Linked DNA regions of Homo sapiens. The protein of the gene in region 2 purifies or fractionates together with the protein of the main gene of each other region. This does not show direct contact. Each region holds a gene or a part of one and is shown on either strand. Other genes may lie near its edges.

What was found. Proteins that work in one complex are often made in the same cells at the same time.
Region 1: the proteins of RETNLB (region 2) and SMOC1 purify together in Homo sapiens (affinity purification with mass spectrometry; one large-scale study listed by BioGRID and IntAct). This does not show direct contact.
Region 3: the proteins of RETNLB (region 2) and LONP2 purify together in Homo sapiens (affinity purification with mass spectrometry; one large-scale study listed by BioGRID and IntAct). This does not show direct contact.
Region 4: the proteins of RETNLB (region 2) and PLXNA2 purify together in Homo sapiens (affinity purification with mass spectrometry; one large-scale study listed by BioGRID and IntAct). This does not show direct contact.

What each region holds. Positions count from the first base shown.
Region 1 is NC_000014.9:70,008,416-70,012,171, reverse strand, and holds part of SMOC1 (SPARC-related modular calcium-binding protein 1 isoform 1 precursor), read right to left. Parts: intron 1,419-3,756; coding exon 1,226-1,418; intron 688-1,225; coding exon 605-687; intron 1-604. UniProt on the Homo sapiens protein: Plays essential roles in both eye and limb development. Probable regulator of osteoblast differentiation.
Region 2 is NC_000003.12:108,754,892-108,758,828, forward strand, and holds RETNLB (resistin-like beta isoform 1 precursor), read right to left. Parts: upstream 2,520-3,937; 5' UTR 2,295-2,519; coding exon 2,168-2,294; intron 1,698-2,167; coding exon 1,617-1,697; intron 1,015-1,616; coding exon 887-1,014; 3' UTR 747-886; downstream 1-746. UniProt on the Homo sapiens protein: Probable hormone.
Region 3 is NC_000016.10:48,355,075-48,358,105, reverse strand, and holds the end of LONP2 (lon protease homolog 2, peroxisomal), read right to left. Parts: 3' UTR 1,442-3,031; coding exon of another isoform or gene 1,396-1,441; 3' UTR 757-1,395; downstream 1-756. UniProt on the Homo sapiens protein: ATP-dependent serine protease that mediates the selective degradation of misfolded and unassembled polypeptides in the peroxisomal matrix.
Region 4 is NC_000001.11:208,041,629-208,045,384, forward strand, and holds part of PLXNA2 (plexin-A2 precursor), read right to left. Parts: intron 3,583-3,756; coding exon 3,439-3,582; intron 3,115-3,438; coding exon 2,880-3,114; intron 1,576-2,879; coding exon 1,433-1,575; intron 739-1,432; coding exon 470-738; intron 1-469. UniProt on the Homo sapiens protein: Coreceptor for SEMA3A and SEMA6A. Necessary for signaling by SEMA6A and class 3 semaphorins and subsequent remodeling of the cytoskeleton. Plays a role in axon guidance, invasive growth and cell migration.

The DNA.
Region 1 (3,756 bases), on a different chromosome or scaffold from region 2:
CATTTCCCACCAGCACTAATCTGACTTTGTGCTGTGTAAAGACAATAAGATTCCAAGCCACCAATATTTAGTAATGTTACTGTAACTTGCAGGCAGAGATTGCTATAAATAAGGGGAAACCCGCACATCAGCCATTTGGAGGTACCAGGGCCCTGCCTATGTGTCTTGTGTCACACTCCATGGTCGTCCTGTGTCACCAGGGGTCATCTGCCTCTTCAGAGCAAGCAACAGACACTGTCCACATCGCTCAGGACAGCCCCTCCCTATAAGCTATCTTATCCTCACAGCTCTGGAAAAAATAACTCACAGTGCTCAAAACATTGTCCTCATGGACCTCAGATGGACAACGCATTGTGGAACTGCAGACGGGATTTTAACCCGATGACTGCATTATAAAGACGAAGAGGCACAAGGAAGAGAAGCAATGTGCACAAGAGCAGAGCTAATTAGGGATAAATCCCAGACCAGGATGTAGATCCCACGGCTCCTGGCTCCATCTTACACATGGGGAAACAGACAAAGAGGAGACAGCTTCTTCTGCATAATGAGAGGGTGGAGGAACAGAAGGAGGTGATGGCGCCGGCAGGGCAGCATCGTCTCCCACCTGGTAGCTCCCTGTCCTTGAAGGGGTCATCCGCCTCTGTAGTCTTGGCCCTGGCGTCGCTCTCACAACTGGGCATCACGTAGCTGGGAAAAGAGAGATATGGGGGGGGTTGGGAGGGGCTGGCAACTGAGCCTACTTCAGTCACTACTGCCCAGCAATGATCTATGTTGTCACCAAGCCTAAAGCACTGAGGGTGGGCAGAACGATATCTCTTGCGCTGCCCGGCAGCTACAAGGCAATCTTAGCATCAATGTTCCCACTGAGACATGTTCAGGCATGTCATTTCAACCACTCAAGCATAATAACAATGATACTTGAGCTGCACGCAGTATCTTTTTTGATCCATGGAAGCTAGTGGCTTAGAAAGGGCAATAATCTCATCAGGAAACTGACGTTCAGAGAGGTTAAGTACTGTTCCAAGGTCTTAAGTTAGAAAGAGACAGGCCTGTGACCAGAATCCAGGTCCCAGGGTCTTTCTACCTGAAACTCTTCTACTCATTGAAAACATGGCTCTCCCAGGCACTCATCTCCCACCAGACCAGGGCAGGAACACTGGGAGATGCCAGCATGGATAACAGCCAGCAGGTGCGTTTTTCCCAGGACCCAGTCTGGGGGGCTTACCGTGTGGAGGTCCCAGGCAGCGGGCGCCCTGTGTCCACCAGCACACACCAGCAGTAGCCAGTGGACTGGTGGCATTGCACTGGCTTATAGAGTCCCCCAGGGGCACATTCAGGGATGACAATACCCTCACGGGGATTCTGCTGGGCCTCTTCCAGGGCACTCTGCCTCTCCTGGTCACACGAATAGACTTTCTCTGCAAGAGAAGACACAGCCTGTGGTGACTATCACTCCTGTGATTTAACACTCCTGTCTTCTGTGCCCAGCATCCAAAGTAAGTAGCAAGGACCAGGCCTGGACCCAGGAACTGATGAGCTGCCCCATTGATGAATTACCACAGAGAGCTGTCTCCCATGCCAGCGCATGCTGAGGGGCCTGGAGGTTCAGAACCTCCCTGTGGCCATCTCTGCTGCCAGCATTCATTAGCATTCCCACCAAATAGGTTCAACTGCAGCAACAAGCCAGCCAGGGACTCCAGGGATGCCCCTTCTCAGAGTGGCAGCTTGTCCCAAGGGTGGAATATCTCAATGTTTTCAGAGTGGCTCCTGCTGATGTTCTGTCTGTGGACTGCAGGAGAGGTGGGTGCAGGAGCCTGGCTATGCTGCAGGCTGATGCAGGAATGCTTGTGCATGTAGACCCTTCCACGCCCAGACACAGCATGATGGAGCCGTGGCCATCAGCCTCATGTGGAGTGATGCTCGGCACCCAGGAGGAGCAGAAACAAGGTCCAGCCTTGGCTTCTCCCCACCCTCCAAGGCTGCTGGACAAAGTAGGCCGAGTGAATTTCAGTGAATTACACAATGCTGCTTCCATCCAATTGGAGAGAAAACAGGCCCAGCCGGATGGTGTCTGCACTCAGCAGCCTCAGTAACACATGAGCATGTCTGAACAGCCCAACCTGGTTTCCCCCGAGCCAGTCCCCGGCTGAGACAGAGCGTGGTGCCCTGTGTCCAGCATGGCCAGCTCCAGGGCATCTCACATCTGCACAGCCACTTACCTGAAAATTCTTCCCAATCAACCACTTAGCCTGCCTGGCTTTGCTCTTTGTCTTTTTTTTTCTGGTTTTGTTTTTGTTCTAATTATTAAAAATAAATAGTGTTGGGTTTCTTATTATAAAGAAGTTTTAAAAAAGAAAGTGGAAAAACCTATAATCCTGCCAAAGTTAAACACTGTACCTTCCCTAGATTTTATGTACATACATACATGGAAATACACGTGCACACATCTACTTTTTTGATAACAAAAGAATCACATCATAAACCTGTACTATTACTTTATTTTTCATTTACTTGTTTATTTACCTACTATATTTTTTTCATACCACTATTCTACAACTCTTCTCTTGAAGAAATTGACAGGAATGTAGTCTTGGGCACCCACTGAATGTTTACAGATTGTTACAAAAATACCCTTCTTAAGAGCAAGGAACTTGGTATCAGCAACCTGGAGAACCATGTTGTGCACTGAACAACAGCACTCAACTCCACTTTAAAGAAGCCAACTTCCTTGAAATAATGGCTCTGTTAATGACACACATATAGGTAAAGCACGCATGTTTAAACAAACCATAGGAGTACACAGAGACACAAAGTAGCTCAATGCAGTTTTACAGATAAGTCAGATGATAGAAAAACAATGCTATGTCTCACTGCTAGGAAAATGCTCGAAAACAATAGCCTGGTGATTCTCATTGCAGGGTAAAAATATTTCCTTAGGGGCATAAAAATATCTGAGGGCCAGGAGGCAGGCACATATAGCATATTCACTATTAAAATAGAAAATGTTGTTTTGAATTTGGGAAGTGAAAAAAAACTACTGTTTTCATAATGCAAATATAGAAAAGCTAAACAGAGTCTCCTTGGCTAGAGGAAGAGGAGTTTAAAACAGCTGACAGACATCAGACTTGGGTTTTGCCTCCAACTGTGACTACCACCAGAACAGCATCTAGAGACAGGAAAGAGACAGAAACTGAGCAGGGAGAGGGGCCTTGGGAAACCTGCTTTAAAGATCCAGCATTTTGACTTCAGCCCCTGGCTGGGAAGGTGCCATGGCAACTTCAAGGGGATTATGCAAGAATTTTTCAATAGCTCCCCCAACCCCAATTTGGTAGCCTTATTTTCCTACCTCGTATTTCATGCCATGAAAGAGGCAATAGAGGAGCAAAACCAAAGGAAAACAGCTTTTTACTGACACCACGTTCATGTAACAACCTCTGACAGAGGATTTAAATTAAGACTCTCCAGGCCAACCTTCTAAAGCCATAAATCAGACCGAAAGCAAGAGGCAAAGAGAGAAGGGGGGCGCTTCCCCAGGGGCAGAGCAAATAATGAACCTGACTTCACACCACTGGGGGTCCCGAGACCCTCAGAAATGTGGACAGAAGCCATCTAAGAAGAGGCACAGACTCGTGGCTTGGGCCCTGTTGATGGATTTCTGGAAGTCCTTGAAGGCTGTTCTGAGCTGTTTATAGTCAGTGTCTATGAAGTTCCATGGAGAATAAAATCATTAAAATGCCAGGCTCAGTGGCTCATGCC
Region 2 (3,937 bases):
CCCAGCCATCCCATTACTGGGTATATACCCAAAGGACTATAAATCATGCTGCTATAAAGACACATGCACACGTATGTTTATTGCGGCACTATTCACAATAGCAAAGACTTGGAACCAACCCAAATGTCCAACAATGATAGACTGGATTAAGAAAATGTGGCACATATACACCATGGAATACTATGCAGCCATAAAAAATGATGAGTTCATGTCCTTTGTAGGGACATGGATGAAATTGGAAACCATCATTCTCAGTAAACTATCGCAAGAACAAAAAACCAAACACCGCATATTCTCACTCATAGGTGGGAATTGAACAATGAGATCACGTGGACACAGGAAGGGGAATATCACACTCTGGGGACTGTGGTGGGGTCGGGGGATGGGGGAGGGATAGCATTGGGAGATATACCTAATGCTAGATGACACGTTAGTGGGTGCAGCGCACCAGCATGGCACATGTATACATATGTAACTAACCTGCACAATGTGCACATGTACCCTAAAACTTAGAGTATAATAAAAAAAAAAAAAATGAAAAAAAAGAAAAAAATAAATAAATAAATAAATAAAAATGAGGGAAGTGGGGGTTTGGAGTGTCAGTTTGTTTTTCCCATTCTTCCCATATCTTTCCTAACTTCCCATCCCACTTCCCAAACTGAGATGTCACCACTGGGACACTGACAACATTTTCTGGATAGGGGAGCCCCAAGCTGGGGACAATAACAGAGATGACATAAGCACAGAGAGGTACAAAGTTTGTCTTTATTACCCAAGAATCAGGAATGGAACAAATGAAGTGGGACGTTTGAGTTAGATTTCTTGGTTGGGACCCTGGTTTCATTACTGTCATGGTCACAAAACTGAGTTCTCAGCCTCCTCCCTGTCAGGTCAGGTGGCAGCAGCGGGCAGTGGTCCAGTCCACCACACTGCACTGGCAGTGGCAGGTGGTTTCCAGCTGAACATCCCACGAACCACAGCCATAGCCACAAGCACAGCCAGTGACAGCCATCCCTGCATGAGCACATGAAGCACAGACATCAGAGCTCTTGGAATTTAAGAGGAGGAAGGGCTACCCACAACCATCTTTCAACCCTGTGCAGTCAGGGGTAGAGCTAGGTTTCGTGGGGCCTCAAGCTCATTCAATTTTGCGAGCTCATTTCAAGAAAAGAAATACAGAAATCACAGAAACAAATATTTGCTGCCATGAAAGAGACTCATGCAAGTGAGAGACTTGGAACTTGGGAGTTTCAGTTTTCTTCGATTTGTGATAAATTCACCTCTCTGTTGGCCCCTACCCATCAAAACAGAGGAATAGATTGGAAAGAGAAATGAAGTATGTGATCATTATGGGACAATGGAGGAGAGGAAGGGCTGAGAAACAGGGGCATGAAGTGAAGGGGTGAAAGGAAGAGGCAGAAGCCCAAGATCCCCCAGTAGCATCCTTCAGGGAAACAAGAATGGGCAAGGGGTCTCTGGGAACCAAGAGTCATGACTCAGCCCCAGGGTGCCAGGGTGATACAGACCTGACATGGGGGAAGACGTAGGTGCAGGGAGATGGACAGGGGAGGATACAGGGCATCGTAGTCGCCATTCCCTCTCAGGGAGTTACTCACCAGCAGGGCAGGAGGACGGTCTGCCTTGGCTTTTGACACTAGCACACGAGAGCTTCTTGCTTATAGGAGAGGGACTGTACTCTGAGTAGGAAAGAAGAAAGGGTACATCCCATGAGCTATCCTCCCCATAATCCCCTTATCCCCTTCCAAATTGTCTTCTACCTTGGAGGTGACACTGTGTCCAGAATCAGCCTACTCATCAGCTTTTAAGGTTAGTTTCCTCATTTTTAAAGCAGAAGTAATAGTTGTCCTTACCTCATAAAATGGTTGTGGGAATTAAATGAAATAATCTACGTAAAACTTGGATTATACCTGGTTCATAATGAGTGTTCATAAATTACAGCTACCATTCTCCTCCACCTCTTCCTCCTCATCAGGAAAACCTCAGCTTTTAGCCAAGACTTCAAACACGGGTAGGGTAGTGTAGAAAGCCCTCATCAGGGGTTGGGCTTGGTTGGGATCTTGGGATGGGATAGAGACAAAGCTAGAGTTTAAGAACAGGAGAAATGAGCAAGGGTCAACCCCCCGCTTCCCCTACCCCAGTCAGTTACCTAGACTGTTGAGAACATCCTTGATCTTCTTATCCATAACGGAGTCTAAGGAACACTGAGTACTCCCCGGGTTGATCAGCTGGAGAAGGGGGATTAGGATGAGAAGGAGGCAAGAGGACGGCCCCATCCTGTACAGAGTCAGTGTCCTGGGGCTGGGAGAAAAGATGGAAAGCAGCTTAGATCTCTGAGCTCCTGGGTGGTGGTGAAGGAAAGAAGACAACGTGGTTAGTTTCCAGGGAGTAAAGATGGAAGAACAGCGTCATCAGTACTGGATCTCTTTAGGCAGTTTGGAGAAGCAGGTAGGGTTGCTGAAGAACAGATTTATTCACCAAAACATTCAGAGAAGGTCTACAAGGACTAGCCAGGCAAGGGCGTTTTAATACACCTGGTATTAACCTGGGCACCTTTAACATACAAGCACACACAAACATGTAAACACACTCCCAGCACACTTTCAAAGACCTGTGCCAGCTAGGGTAACAGGTGACTGTGATAAACTTTGGAGTGTTCATGAGAAGCAACAGCTGCCTTTGCTCTGGATCTCTGCCAAGGGAGTCCTCCTGCCTTTTTGTTCTCCTTCTCCTTTCTTCTTGGCAACCCGATAAGGCTAGCACCTGGGCCTTCTGTGGTCTGCCGGTATTATAGGCTTCTTGTTTGATCCTTCATCAGGAAGAGGTTACTTTGCAGTTAACAAACAAATTAATCCACCCATCATCTATCCCAAACCCAAGTGTATGCTCTTTCTTATCTCTGTTGGCTGAGGGAGGGCCCTACTTGTCACCTGTTCAGACACCATTTTATTGTCCCTGGCCAATCTCATTTGGAGGAAAGTCACAGAAAGACTAATTAATCCTGGATTAAAAATAAGGAAGTTCAGTATTTACTTAACTAGAAGCATGGTTTATGATTCCAGAGTTCTTTTGGGGGCTCATAAAGTTTCCCTTTTTCCCCCACCATTCTCAGCTAATCTTTCGATCTTGTCTCCTCATGGTCACAAGGTAGAAGGTGCCACATCCTCAGCCCAGACCCTGAGCAGGAAGGAAGGAGTGGGGCAAGGCCACTTTCTGTAGGGGCTTTACCTTTTTATTTTAAGAGCAAGATCTTTCTCTAGAAGCTCAAGAAGATTTCCCCTTACATTCCACTGTTTGGTTCTGGGTCACACAACCTCCCTTTCTATCAGCTATGGCTGAAAAAGAGAGCTGGGCTTCACAATTCCTTATCCAAGACCTGGGGCCCAGGTATGTTTCAGAACTCAGAATGTTTCAGATTATGGAAGGTGCAAATTCTGTATATTATGTTAAACCACCAAGGAGGTTGGGGGCAGCACTCTGCAGTCTAATGCATAAATAGCCTGATGCAAAATGTATGAATATTAATGTGGGATAAATAAAAGACCATAAAGAGCCTCACACCAGGCCATGCCAAGTTTTTCTGCCAAATGAGTTAGCCTCAAATTTAGGACAGAACATTTTCATCTTTAGAGCCTTTTAGATTTTAGAATAATGGATAAGGGATTGAGGACTTTGAGGATTCACATATGGCCAAGAGGAATGAGGATGCCATGATTCCTCATCTAGGATGGGGCATGTGGCCACCATGAATAAATAAAATTTAAAGAAGTGCAGATGAAGAAGCAGAGAAAGGGGCCATGTGTTGTGGCTCATGCCCATAATTCCAATACTTTGATAGGCTGAGGCAGGAGGGTCTCTTGAGCACAAGAGTTCAAGACCAGCCTGGGCAACATAGTGAGACTCTATCAAAAAAAAAAAA
Region 3 (3,031 bases), on a different chromosome or scaffold from region 2:
CCATATTTCTTGGTCCATTACACATTTGATTTATGAGGCATAACTCTTGTCCTGAAATTGCTTGTTATAACGAAGACTTCCTCCATTTCTTATTTTTGGTGTCTTTCAGGAGGCTGTACATGGGGTAGGTATGGGAGATACTTATTAACTTTGTTCTATTGCTTTTATACCCTTAAACTTGAAATTGTCCTATTTAATCATGGGCCAGTTTGGTGTGTTAATTTTTGGGGAACAGTTTTTCCTTTGTGAGTAATTTTTATTGTAATATGTATGATTTTAAGACCCACCTTTCTGCAAACTTCAAACGTATGTAAGTGGCTGTAGATAGCTTAGCTCACCAAAATAATAGTGTGCTGCCTCCAACCCCCAAAAGCTCTTCATATTTAGAAACATCTGCAGTGATTCTACTAATGGTAGAATTCTATTTCATTCACACTCCTGATTAGAAGAATTGGTAAGTAATCCAAATTAAGAAAATAATGGATCAAATCCAACATACCTGGGGGGTCAGTCTGTGACTGCTGCATTAGAATGGACATAAAAGTAATGTCGAAACTCGACAGGGTGAATAGTGTGTGTGAACTACCACGCAGGACTGTGGTATTTGTGTAGGTTAAACATGAAAGGTACAGATAGAGTGTTACAGAGACCCGGAGTTTGAAGCTTTGTCATTCCCCTCCCCACTCATCCAGTGTGCATGTTCAAAGCACAAAGGAGTATTTGGTAGTTTACTGCTTATGATCCTAACCTGAATTTACCAAAAGAAACGTACGTTTATCTAAAAATGGCACCATCCAAACAAAATTCCTTATCAAGCATCTACTAAGATTTGGTGGCAAACAGTGTGGGTTGTAGATTCTAACTGCCTGGGTTGACTTCTGACTCTGTATCTACCAGTTTTTATTTAAATACCTTCTCTGCCTGGTCCCTCCTCCACAAAAGGGTATGATGTCCACTGCGTAAGGGAATGAGGAAGGCTAGATGTGCTATAAAGTGCTTATTATGCCTGACTTGATACCCCAGTGTCTTGCTGAACCAAATATTTTCGCTATCCTTATATAGCTCTAGAAACTTGACAAAGAAATACACTTTATTATCATAGATGTAATTTTCTTAGGCCTTTCTGAATTCTGAAAATAATAACAGGTTTACAGATATAAATAATGGAGCAAAAGGACACCTGGTTTTGGGGTCACATTTTGACAGGCTTGCACTGTCATGTCAGGATGAGGATTTAGCCTCAAGAGTTTGTATTGCCTAGAAATGTGCTGACAGTGTCATTAAGTACAAACTACAGTATTTCCAAAGAAATGAATTTTCATGACAAAGCTTTTCCTAAAATTGTTTTAGAAGTCCTTTTGCTGTAACTTTTAAAACATCTCAATGACCACTCACCATATTTGCCTGTTGTCTATTCAGACCTTTTTGATATTTCCTTCCTCTTTCAGCATTTTTGTTTTTTAAGTGCAGTTTTCATTGTGGTATCCACCAAATGTTTGTAAAACAAACAAAAAAAATGAGCATTAGTGTTGGACCATAAATCATCAAATTGGATAATGACTAACTGTAGTCTTTTTTTTTTTTTTTTTTTTTAGCTGCTGGATACAATTTTCATGGCAATAGGAACTGAAGTACTTCAAATAATGTGAGCTTAAACATGTTACTTCATTGAAACAACCAAAACTACTTGATGTTTACATCTAAAATCCTGGTTAAAATAAATTTTAGATTTGGAAAGGGAATTGGCAAAACTAACATTCTTTGTAGCAAAATGTCCCTTAGTAATAGTCAAGTTGACCTCATTTCAGTAGTTCATAAAGGAAAATCCAAAGCCCTCAGCAGTGAATTACCTGGCCACATAGCTGATTTTGGTCACTGTGAATGCAGACCAATCACCTAGTACTGGAAGCTCACAGTGGTAGACATCACTATCACAGTACTTTACGGTCATGGATTTCTCGTGAACTATTTCAGGAACAATCACAAAGATGACATTCTTCACTGTATTTGCATTTGTAACCACCAAGCAAGTAAGGATCTCTGCCCCAGATGCATGGTTTGAGGTAAGGTTCACAGGGACCACTAAAGGGGCAGAGCCAAGTAAAAACATGGATGTCTCCAGTGGACAGTGTAGGATTTCTTGATAAGCAAAGCACCTAAAGCTTTTAGTTTTAATACTTGAGAAGTTTTAAAAACCCATGCATAAAACGTGGAATACCGGTAAAATACACATATCCCTAAGTCTAGTTTAAACTAAAATTTCTAGAGTTAATAATTTTCAATAAAAAAATCCAGCTTATTTTGATACAAGGGGTCTTTGGGTAACATCTTAAAAATCAATGCTAGAAAATGCTCAACATCACTAGTCATTAGGGACATAGAATCAAAATACGTCACACCCATTTGGAGGGCTATTATAAAAAACCCAGAAAATGAGTGCTGGCAAGGATGTGGAGAAACTGGAACATTTGTGCATTGCTGGAAGGAATGTCAAATGGTGCAGCTGCGGTGGAAAAGTTTGGCAGTTCTCAAAAAGTTAAACAGAATTATCCTGTTGTCTTAGTCATTTGTGTTAACCGTAACAGAATACCTGAGACTGGGTAATTTAAAAGTACGAATTTATTTCTCATAGTTGTGAAGACTGAGAAGCCCACGATCAGCGTGCTGGCAGACTGGTATCATCTATTGAGGGCCCAGTCTCAGCTTCTAGGACGGGGCCTGTTGCTGTGTCCTCATATGGTGGAAGGGAATCGAAGGGCAAAAAGGAGGTAATTGGTTCCCTTGAGCCCCTTTATAAAGGCACTAAATCCATTAATGAGGATGGAGCTCTCATGACATAATCACCTCCTAAAGCCTCACCTATCACGTTGGTGGTTGCTTCAACATACGAATTTGGTGGGGGGACATTCAGACCTTAGCATATGTGATCTAGTAGTTCTGCTCCTGGATATGTATCCCTAAAGGACCTAAGAAGGGACTTCAAGAGAGATGTGTACACCCATGTTCATAGCATTACTCATAATACCCAAGA
Region 4 (3,756 bases), on a different chromosome or scaffold from region 2:
ATGGAGGAGCTGGATTTTACATTCTATTTCATTTTAATTTGTAGCAGCTACCTGTGGCTAGGGGCCGCTGTGCCGGACAGCACAGCTCTAGAGGCACCGGGAGGAAGAGACTGTGAGATAGGAATTATTTTTCTCATTTTGTCTAGGAGGAAACTAAACAACAGAGTGGTTACAACACTGGCCAGAAATCACAGAGCTAGCAGGAGGCAGAGCTGGGACTCCAGCTGAGATCCGAGCAAGGGTCTGAGCTCATCCATCACACCTGGGTGACTTCAGACTCTGTAGTCTCCCTGGGCTGAGGGAAAGTCAGATTCTGCCCTGCAGAGACGTGAGGACACAGGCTGCTCTGAATGGGTGCCCCTTCTGGGGAGTGGGCCTTCTCATGCTGCTTGTGGGGCCTGCTATAATGAGGTGCTCTGTCCAGGTTCAGACTCCTGCCACCCTCTCCACCCACTGCTGCGGGCCAGACCTCCGGAGTAGCAGCTTGGGGTGGTTCTTGTTCTCCAGGTTCTTATCGATGAGGTCAGAGAGCAGCTGCTTGAGGACATCAGTGGCATATTCCAGGCGGCCCTGCAGGCCGGTCATGATGAGCGAAGCCACGTTGCCCCGGTCGCGCATGGAGAAACTGCGCTGCAGCTCCAGGGTGCGGATGAAGGTCAGCAGGAACACCTTGTTGTTGATGAGCTGGGCAAAGAGCTTCAGGGCCTTCTCCACGTGCTGCTGCCCGTTTCCTTGTACCTGGGGTGGGGTGTGGTGGAGGCGACGCCCTCAGAGGACAGGCATCGGGCCTCCTACCTGAGGGTCTCACTGAGGGCCTGCTGGCGATGACACTAGCTGTAGGACCCTATGTTTGAGGCCTATAACCAACCCCACCCCATTCCACTCACCCGTGATGATGTAGGAACAGCTGGCTCTAAGGTCGACAGTCTGCTCTGACCTTGCACTGGGCCGGGGAGGCTGGGCTCCATGCGGAGCTCTCAGAGGGGAGGCTGCCTGATTTTCCCAAGGATAGAATAGGAGATGCCCCCTCAAACTTCTTCAGTTTACTAGTCTCCCCTTAATCTCCTCTGCCTGATTTATTATCTTTAGTAAAACAAACCAACAAATGAACAAACAAACCTCATAGAATCCTGTGTCTTTCTTTAAGCCATCTTAAATCCATTTTAGAATGAGGCAGGATCTTAGTTAATTAGTTCAGTCATTAATTAAAAAATGACAAACAATGAGCTTTACCCTGGAACCATCCCAAGGAGCCTGGGTGCCCCCTCAGCCGTAACCTTCCTGATAGCTCTGTTGCTGAGATGCTGTTACAAACTACTGACCCCTCTTCCCTGCTAACCTTACTCAGTACTGCTGAGTCTCATCTGGATTTCCTAGGATACCCTGGGCCTGCATCCCTGCTGGGTGGCTGGGCCCAGGAGGCAGGCATTACCTCCAGCTCCCGCAGGACGGGGTGGTCCTCGATGCCCGGGAACAGGACTCGCATAGCGTAGGTACGATAGTCCAGGTAAGGGATTCCTGAGCGGTCCAGGTCACTGGTCAACTCATTGATATCCGTCTGGAGCTCAGCAAAAGCTATGAGAATAAGCAGACGGAGAGGCTCGTGGGGAAGCCCCAGTCGGGGGAGGAGAAAGAGGGAGAAGAAGTTTGCAAAGGACGAGGGGAGGACCTTTTGTAGAGACTCTGAGGATTACGGGAGTGTGTCTCCAGAGGGCGGGGCTACTCCCAGCTGTTTTTAGGTGGTGGGGAAATGGGTGATTTTTATGTTATTTTCTCCTCTATACTTATCTATAATTTCAAATTTTCTCTTTACATATTACAAGTGTAGTTTCAACAAGGAAAAAAAAGTATCATGATTGGGCCGTTTAGTAAAGATCACGGAGATGCTGGAGGCAGGTGAGAGACCATGGCTGAGGGGGTCCAGCAAAGACCAGAACAGGCAAAGTGCTGCCCTTTTCTAATCAAGGTAATAAATCAAGATGCAAAAGCCTAGGGGAGGTCTGGTCATGAGACGCTCAGCTGAGAGCCGAGTTTGGGAAGGCAAGGGCTTCAGAAGCCTCACCTTGGTGGTGGCACACCTGTCTTCCTGGCTCCTTCCTCTGCCAAACTCACCAGCCCTGTTGCCAGGAGGAACCTTGGCTCCACATGTCCTATTTCCCAGCCCAGCTCTTCCCTGTCATCCAGCAGAGGGCTTGTTTCTGATCTTGACATTTGCAGCAAAAGGAGAAATGTTTTCATTCCTAATTGAGCTGTTTACCCAGAGAGCCTGCCAGGTCCTCAGCCTGAGAGGACGCCAGGTACACTCGTCACCTCGAGGCTGTGGTTGCGTGGGACATGGGAGAAAACACAATCTGCACTCCCACACACGTCCACAGCCAAGGACACCAGCAAGTGGCGGCCTTCAGAGCGCTCAGCCTGCAGCACTGATGGAAAACAAACCCTGGGGGAGATGAGGCAGGTGCTTGTCTGCCTTTGCTGCCGCTGCTCCCACGTGCTGCGAAGACAGTGTGCAGAAAAACAAGAGCTGGACACTCCCATGGGGGATCTAGAGTCTGGGGCTGTGGAGCCTGGGGACTCTGACTGTGGGGACATTGAGGCCCTGAGAGGGAGAAAGTGTTTGCCAGATTGTGGGATGGGTCAGGGCAAAGAAGGGACTAGAACAATGCAATTGGACCTGGGTCCTCATGCAGTGGGCATTCTTCATTGGACATCTCTGACCCTATAAGCAAAAGAAGTTCTGGGAAAACAGGGGTGAAAGTGGAATGCAGAGGCATGGCTGGCAGCGATGGGAGTAAAGATAGGAGTTGTCTGCAGGGAGAAGGGCAATAAGGCAGGTGGAGAAAGAGGGACCCAGCAAATGAGGGTGTGCTTCCACTAACCTTCCTTGCACTCCAAGGCCACACGGGACTCCAGATTGTCCATCTGCATTTGCAGCCGCTTGAGAGTGAGGTCATTTTCTCGAGACTTGCGCTTGTAGGCAATGAGGACGATGATGACGATGATGAGGAGGAGGCTGCCGCCGGCCGCGATGCTGACGATGGCTGGCAGGGTCAGCAAGCTGTCTGAGATGACACTCACCGAGCCAGGCGAGAACACCATCCCGCCCACGTGAACCTGTGCATTGTACACATACAGACGCACATGGATGCACACAGGTGTAGAGCCCGGGCATGCCAGCAGATCCTTACAGTGCGAGGAAGGACATGACAGACCACAACCACACAGTGCAGCTCTAGATAAAAAGCAATTTCCTGCCTCGGCATCTGCCTTTCTTTTCTTGTGTTCTCAGCTTATACCCAATTTGATGTAGGACCCAGAGATGAGGAGATATGGAGGGGGTGAGTCAGGCAACGAGACAGAAGAGAGCCTTTCCTTAGGACAGATCACACATGCACCACGAGGCGGGAAGGAGGCATTACAGACGCAGGGCTCACTCACCATGACCTTGTGCTGCCCGGTGAGGTTGGGAGGCTCGCAGAGAAGCTGGGTCTCAGATACGGTGACAGCACAAGGGGTCTCTCCGATGAGCACAGTGTAGTTGAGTTTGGCCCCTCCAGAGGCAGGAGGGCAGAGGTTTTTGCCCTGTAGAGAATAGCAGTCTTTATAGGCATAATTGACACATGCACGCACAAGTTAATTGCCTACTTAAAAAGAGATTAAGGAGACGGGGAAGGGCAGCAGTGCAAAAACCAGGAAATGACTCCTTGGCAAGTTTTTGTGGAGGGGACTTCTAACAGCCATGATCTAGAGAGAAAG